2 linked regions of the Homo sapiens genome follow. The protein of the gene in region 1 purifies or fractionates together with the protein of each later gene. This does not show direct contact. Each region holds a gene or a part of one and is shown in the gene's direction. Other genes may lie near its edges.

Evidence for each region. Proteins that work in one complex are often made in the same cells at the same time.
Region 2: the proteins of FGL1 (region 1) and AARS2 purify together in Homo sapiens (affinity purification with mass spectrometry; 4 studies listed by BioGRID and IntAct, with this or other methods). This does not show direct contact.

What each region holds. Positions count from the first base shown.
Region 1 is NC_000008.11:17,878,525-17,882,024, reverse strand, and holds part of FGL1 (fibrinogen-like protein 1 precursor), read left to right. Parts: coding exon 1-26; intron 27-3,500. UniProt on the Homo sapiens protein: Immune suppressive molecule that inhibits antigen-specific T-cell activation by acting as a major ligand of LAG3. Responsible for LAG3 T-cell inhibitory function. Binds LAG3 independently from MHC class II (MHC-II).
Region 2 is NC_000006.12:44,310,548-44,314,666, reverse strand, and holds the start of AARS2 (alanine--tRNA ligase, mitochondrial), read left to right. Parts: upstream 1-1,319; 5' UTR 1,320-1,343; coding exon 1,344-1,586; intron 1,587-2,403; coding exon 2,404-2,595; intron 2,596-3,131; coding exon 3,132-3,277; intron 3,278-3,505; coding exon 3,506-3,673; intron 3,674-4,119. UniProt on the Homo sapiens protein: Catalyzes the attachment of alanine to tRNA(Ala) in a two-step reaction: alanine is first activated by ATP to form Ala-AMP and then transferred to the acceptor end of tRNA(Ala). Also edits incorrectly charged tRNA(Ala) via its editing domain.

The sequences.
Region 1 (3,500 bases):
TCTTGGAAGCAAGAGGCAGTATGCAGGTCAGAATGGACTTTTCTTAAGTGTTTCTATAACTTACATTATGCACCCATGTACAGTGATGGTGCTAGTTATTTCAGGCTTTTCCTATTTCAGTAACAAGCAATATGAAGCATTATATCTATTGTAAATGTCTTCTTTCACACTTTACTTTTTTTTTTTTTTTTGAGGCGGAGTCTTGCTCTGTCGCCCAGGCAGGAGTGCAGTGGTGCAATTTTGGCTCACTGCAAGCTCCGTCTACCAGGTTCACACCATTCTCCTGCCTCAGTCTCCCGAGTAGCTGGGACTACAGGTGCCCACCACCAGGCCCGGCTACTTTTTTTGTATTTTTAGTAGAGGCAGGGTTTCACCATGTTAGCCAGGATGGTCTCGATCACCTGACCTTGTGATTCGCCTGCCTCGGCCTCCCAAAGTGCTGGGATTACAGGCGTGAGCCACCGTGCCCAGCCGACACTTTACTTTTTTCTATCTCTGCCAGGGCATTTAATGTGAATGCTAAATATCTGAGAATTTATATCATTTAATAAGAAATCAGGACAATAGATTGTTTAAATACTGATGGACACAGCCAAGTGCGGTGGCTCACGCCTGTAATCCCAGCACGTTGGGAGGCCTAGGTGGGCGGATTACAAGGTCAGGAGATCTAGACCAGCCTGGCCAATATGGTGAAACCCCATCTCTACTAAAAATACAAAAATTAGCTGGGCGTGGTGGCAGGTGCCTGTAGTCCCAGCTACCTGGGAGGCTGAGGCAGGAGAATCACTTGAACCCAGGAGTCGCAGGTTGCAGTGAGCCAAGATCGTGCCACTGCACTCCAGCCTGGGCAACACAATAAGACTCTGTCTCAAAAAAAAAAAAAAAATCCGTGTACACATGGCAGATTACAATTGGGAATTTTTGCATTTGAGCTTTGTGTTTGTGTATCTTTCCTTGTTGCATGTATGCAGTTTTCCCTTCTGAAATCCTAATGTGCATTAGGGTGGCAAATAAGGTAAAAAATAAAGGAGCAGAAAAAGGAAAAAGAACCAGAATTACTAAGGAAAATAAAAGAGTAGTTTTTTATATGTATATTTTCTGATTTCATAATGTTCCTTTCAATGAGGTATTTCTCCCCAGAAACTAAATGATTTTAAACTGGCAACACATTACACACATTGCTGCACAAATCATTATTCTCTATGGAAAACTGTTCACTTGAATTCCTCCAGAAGTAAAAGGTATCTTTTAGAGTAAACGACGATTGTCAGAAACAAAAAGAATGCTAGCGAAAGCACTTTGTCCATATGTCTATTCTAGCACTACCATGCTACATTGTAATTTCTGTTTATGAGTCTATTGAGGTCAATTAACTGGGCACTCTGTGAGGTCTAGAATGATATTTAATGTACTTTTATCTCCCTGTTGGCTATTAGAGTGCCTGAAACATAGTAGATCCTCATATTCAGGAATGAAAGGAAGGTAGTTCATAGGGAGAGGAATAGCAAGATAAGCAAATATAAATTCGGACACCTATTTGACTAGAATTGAAAGACTGTAGAGGTCAAAGAGTTGCCAATCTTATGGGAATAGAAACATGTTTATTTTCTGCTTCTAATCATACAAGTGTAGGATATAGGAGTTGTGAGAGTCTATGCTTCCATAAAATGCTTCAGGGCACCTGGCTGGCTCACACTGTAGCGCATGAGACTCTTAAAATGCTCCCTTTTTTTCTACCAAGATCCTTATCTCCCTCTGCTCAGACTCCTCGCCCTGGGCTCCTGCTTCTCTTATGGCCAGCATCTTGATCCAACTGCCCTCCCTCTGGCCCTTAGAGATCAGAAAGAGGCCAGAGCCAGTGGTCTGCAGTAGTGGGGATGGCTATAGCCTGAAGATGGCCAGTGCCTCTGGAGCCAAGAGGAACCAGGGACAGTTCGGGTAAAAATGGGCTTGGGAAGCAAACGGACTATCGTTTAAGGGATGAGCATACAGATAAGTGATCCCAAAAGAACATACAAAGCTGATCTCAAGGGCGAGGAACTCGTAGATGCCAGTGGATCATCATTACTCCAAATTTCAAACCAAGCCCAAGACTTGGGGTTTCTATTTGAACACATTCTGAGCAGGTTATTGGCACAGACTCAAGGGTCAATCATGGCAGGGGGCAGCTAATCAGATGTTTGTTCCCAGGCCTCTACAACCAGTCATGGGAAGACTGAGGCTTAAGTGCTGTATTAGTCCGTTCTCATACCGCTATAACGAAATGAATGAGGCTGGGTCGTTTATAAAGAAAAGAGGTTTAATTGGCTCATGGTTCTGCAGGCTGTAAAGGAAGCATAGCAGCATCTGCTTCTGGGGAGGCCTCAGGGAACTTACAATCATGGCAGACGGCAAAGCAGAAGCAGGCACATCTCACATGGTGGGAACAGGAGAAAGAGAGGGAGGAGGTGCGACACTGTTTCAAAAACCAGATCTCATGAGAACTCACCACTCACTGTAGAGTACCAAGAGAGATGGTGCTAAAACATTCATGACAACTCCACCCCCATGAGCCAATCGCCTCCCACTAGGCCTTCCCTCCCACACTGGGAACTACAACTCAACATGAGATTTGGTGGGGACACACATCCAAATCATATCAAGAGCTGAAGATCCAGTCCTTGTGTTGACACTGCTGGGGAGCAGACTTTGGGAAGTAAGGGGTCACCAAGGAATAAGGCAAGAAATCAGTTACTTGGAAATTACGATGCCAAGGTCAGAGCAGGATTAACTGTACAAGCAGGAGTTAGAAGAGTCATATAGAGATGCTTCAGAAAAAACATTATAATTATTATAAATATAATACTGTTATAATAATAAGACAGATGATAGGAATTCTAGATGACTGTTTTTTGATATAAAAGCCAAAAAAATCAGAATTCAGTAGATTAAAACAATATTTTTCATATATTAATTACAAGCATGAAGAAGAAAAAGGGGAAATAAAATATAAACACAGTTCAATTGTTCTTTATATTTTAGCATATAGGGAGATAGTACTGGAGAGGCTACTAAGAACAGATACTCAATAAATAAAATATATAACATAAAAATTCCAATAAAGTATAGTGTTTTATATATATATAATATGGTATAAAATATATAAGAACTTGTTCACCTCAAAGTTTATGTTTTTGGTGTCCTTAAATTGAAAACAATTAAATATTCATACATATAATCTGTAGAAATATAAATCTTTTCTTCTTATTTACAAGTTACTTTATTATTACTAAATTAGTTATTTTCTGAATTCTAATTTATCTGATGGTAGAAAACACCCAATTACATACAACCTAGCAATTTGTGCAAACAATGCACTAGGCACATGATTTTCTACAGCATACTATTAAGCTGTATCTTTTTTTAAAGAATTTGGGTGCTAGCGGATTATGAATTAAAAGGTTACTGTGTCAAATTCACATTAACTGGTGGCAAGAACAAAAATCTGGCGTCACCACCGC
Region 2 (4,119 bases), on another chromosome or scaffold:
AACAAGAGTGAAACCCCATCTCAAAAAAATAAAAAAGTCATTAATCACACAGAAATCCCCAGCTGGCTTTAGCTTTCTGTTCCAGAAACACTGGAAAAACCAAAACAGGCCAAACACACTTTCAAAACAACACCTTTAATCTATGTGGGCAAAGGGAGAAAAAGGGGATCATGGAATAGGAGTTATAGGTGCTGTCAGAACACAAAGTTAAGAATTTACTATCACTATAGAAATTCAAGTCCAATGTAGATTCCGCAGAGAAACTATGTATACAAAGACCCCAAATAACTTAACACACACAGAATCGTGGCTAAAAGAGACCACCCTGATGGCTAAGGCCTTCTCGGTTATTACACTGACCTCAGCTCTGGAACCTCTATTGAGTTTTAGCTTTGGCAGATTCTCTTCTGTCTTCCCAATCTGTTTAATTTCCCAAGCCAAGGGCATCATGAGAAGCCCCATGAGCACCCTGATTGCATCCACAAGGGCCTGTTGGCTTCAGGGTCACAGCTGTTACTATGGAAAGACAGAAGGGAGAGGTAGAACAGGTATATCTCTTATCCTAAACGAAAACACACAAAACCTTAGGGCATTAGAAGGCTTAGAGAGTGAAATCTCTGCAGCTATTAGCCAACAGCTTCCTCCTGCCTTGACGACCTGGATTCTCTCTGATCCCCAGGCAAATGAGAAGACCAAATGTTAGGCAATTAATAATATAGCAGATGCTGTTTGGCTTCTGTGTTCTCCTATAGACTCCTGCTTCACGGGCAAAAATGGCCGTGTCTGATGCCAAGGTCCAAGGAAACTGGCAAATGCCTAGAACAGTGCCTAGCACATACTAGGTCTTCAATAAATATTTGTTGAATACCTCTTGAATGAATGCTGATACTCCCCTGTCACTCTCTGCCTTCTTCCCTCAGCCTGGAAAAACACACACAAAACACACACACACACACACACACACACACACGAAGTTGAATCCACACCTGTTTATTGCAACCCCATCTGTAACTTTGCAAAACTAATAAGCACAACAGCAATTACTGCTAGAATACGGATTTCAGTGGGCAGGGCATTTTGTCAATTTTGTACCCTAAAAGCCCAAAACAATGCCTAGCACATAGTAGGCTCTCAATGAATATTTGCTTAATGCCGAATGAATTAAGAGCCTACTATGTGCCGGGCGCTGTGCTAGACTCTGCCAGCGACCCAATCGATCGCTTCCACCCCGGCGGCAGAGGCCGCCCCCTGAGTCCTCCTACCGCCAGGGGCCGCTGTAGGAAACGCCTGGCTTCCTTCCCTCGTCACTCTTTGACCACGTAAAGTCACTGCCCGGAGCTACGATGGCAGCGTCAGTGGCAGCTGCAGCCCGGAGGCTGCGGCGGGCCATTCGAAGGTCGCCCGCATGGCGGGGCCTCAGCCATCGGCCGCTCTCATCGGAGCCCCCTGCAGCCAAGGCCTCGGCCGTGAGGGCCGCCTTTCTGAACTTCTTTCGGGACCGCCATGGCCACCGGCTGGTGCCCTCCGCTTCCGTGCGGCCCCGCGGCGACCCCAGTTTGCTTTTTGTCAATGCGGGCATGAACCAGGTGAGGGCCGAACCATACTGATAGGGAGCGGAGTTCGTGAGTTTTCTGGTGAGAAAGACGCTGCAGGATTGGGCAAAAGAAGCGAGAGGCGGAGTTCGTAGCTTTTGGGGAAAGAGGGCGGTGCTTGGTTGGGTAAAGTGATGGGGGTACGGCGCTCAGAGTATAGGGAGGGCTTGGGGAGGGCTTGAGCTGGGAACTTCTGGATTGGGATTGAGTATTAGGTCCAGAAATGGCTGGAGTGGAATCCCGAGGGAGAAGTCTGATTTCATTTATTCGTTATTTAAATAAAGATAACGCTTTCATTAAATGTTTATTGATCACCTATTGTTTGCTGAGTACTATTCTCTAAGGTTTTGGTTTTTATCAACCACTCATCTTTTCTAGACTTCATTGTCCTCATCTGTAAAATAGGGGCGGCATAAGTTAACCTTAGAGGCCGTCTGGGCTCCCTACTAAATGAGTCTCAGTTTTGTTCCCTGAAGTTATTGGGTGTGGTTGAAGAAGCTGAGACGGAGGATGCCACCTTTCAGCGTCCCATTTCCAGCTCCCAACACATTCCTCCTTCTTTTACCTTGCCTATTTTACTAGGCAGAGGGTCTCCGGTTCATGATTTGTTTACCTCTTCTCTGCTCCCCACACACCAGAGATGGCTGTCCCGAGGCTCCCAGTTTGTCCTCATAGACCAAGATTACACTGCACTCTCAGGGGCACAGTCAGCCTTCGGTCTGAACAGCCATCCCTATCCTCACTCCCCACATTTCCCTTCTACTGAGAAATTGGATATCCCTCTCCCCCTCCCCACTCTATGTGCTTCCAGTTCAAGCCAATCTTTCTGGGCACCGTGGATCCACGAAGCGAGATGGCAGGCTTCCGACGTGTGGCCAACAGCCAGAAATGTGTGAGAGCTGGAGGACACCATAACGACCTGGAAGATGTGGGTCGAGACCTTTCCCATCATACCTTCTTTGAAATGCTTGGCAATTGGGCCTTTGGGGGTGAATATTTTAAGGTGAGTCTCTGGGGATCAGTGATCAGCCAAGAAGGGAGTCAATTTGTCCTGTTTCCATTGTACTGTCTGCTTAGGCAGGGCCTCATACCAGATGTGGAGGCAAAGTGCTAGTTGAGCCGGTGTAACAGGAATTACCTCACCTCCCTGATTGGATTGTAAGTCCCTGAAGGGCAGAGACTGTACTTTCTGCCTAATGATCACTCAAAAATTGTTGTTTGAATAAATGGTCAAACAGCAATGCTAAGGTGCTTACTGGAGTTAAAGATCACTCTAGGCTAGAGTAGGCAGAGAATTTCATGTGAAAGTGGGACTTGGTCTGGGACTTGAAAGAAGATAGGACTTAGAAGAAGGGGGAAGCTTTCTGGGCAGGAAAACACTCAGAGGCAGTAATGGTTCATGGCTTATTCTGGGAACAAGATGGCAGCAGAAATGCTTTTGTCTTAAGTCGGGAGCTAAACTCATGTGGCTTGATTACTTCAGTGGGGTCTCCCTCTCACCCGTCTTCCCCCCCCACCCCATGCTGGTTTCTGCTGCAGGAGGAGGCTTGTAACATGGCCTGGGAACTGCTGACTCAGGTCTATGGGATCCCTGAGGAAAGGCTCTGGATCTCCTACTTTGATGGTGACCCCAAGGCAGGGCTGGACCCAGACCTGGAGACCAGGGACATCTGGCTGAGCTTAGGGTAAGTCAGCCCCCTTCTTATGTTCATTCCTGGAGGTCAGGAGGACTGGAAAGTGGAGACTACCAGCACCAATCCTCAGAGTCTTAGCATTTCATTCCAGGATATTGTGGGGTCAGCCCTGTTCCTCCTCTTGCTGAGCTGTGACTTGAGGGAGGGGCTCTCATGGCAGAGAGAGTCCCAGCTTCTGGGTCTGTCTGTCTCCCACCACTCACCTGCTTTTCTCCCCAGGGTGCCTGCTAGCCGTGTGCTTTCCTTTGGACCACAAGAGAACTTCTGGGAGATGGGGGATACTGGCCCTTGTGGGCCCTGTACTGAGATCCACTACGACCTTGCTGGTGGGGTGGGAGCCCCCCAGCTGGTAGAGCTTTGGAACCTGGTCTTCATGCAACACAACAGGTAATAGGGTGCTGAAGCAGGATGAGAATCCCTGACTAGAAGTGGGAAAGGTGGCAATTAGAAGACTTTGATCTGTTTCATATAAAAACAAACATGTAAACGGTGCTTACCGTGTGTCAGGCACAATTCTCAACACCTTATAGATAATAACTGATTTAATTGTAGTCTTTGCCTGTGACAGCTTAAACAAGTCACTGCTATTCTCTGTTGAACTTGATGATCAACGAGTTGAACTTGATGATCTCAGATTTTCTTCTAGCCTTGACATATCTTTCTAGGGGCAAAGAATTCTGTCCCAAGATGGGATGTCTGGTGCCCAGGCAAGGGCCCAAGCAGGGGTGAGAATGGAAATAGCCCTATATGAGGAAGGACAGGACCCCAAGGCCATCATCATCTGCTATTGCAGGGTGGCAGGGGAAGATACTGATTGTCTGGTTCCTCCCACT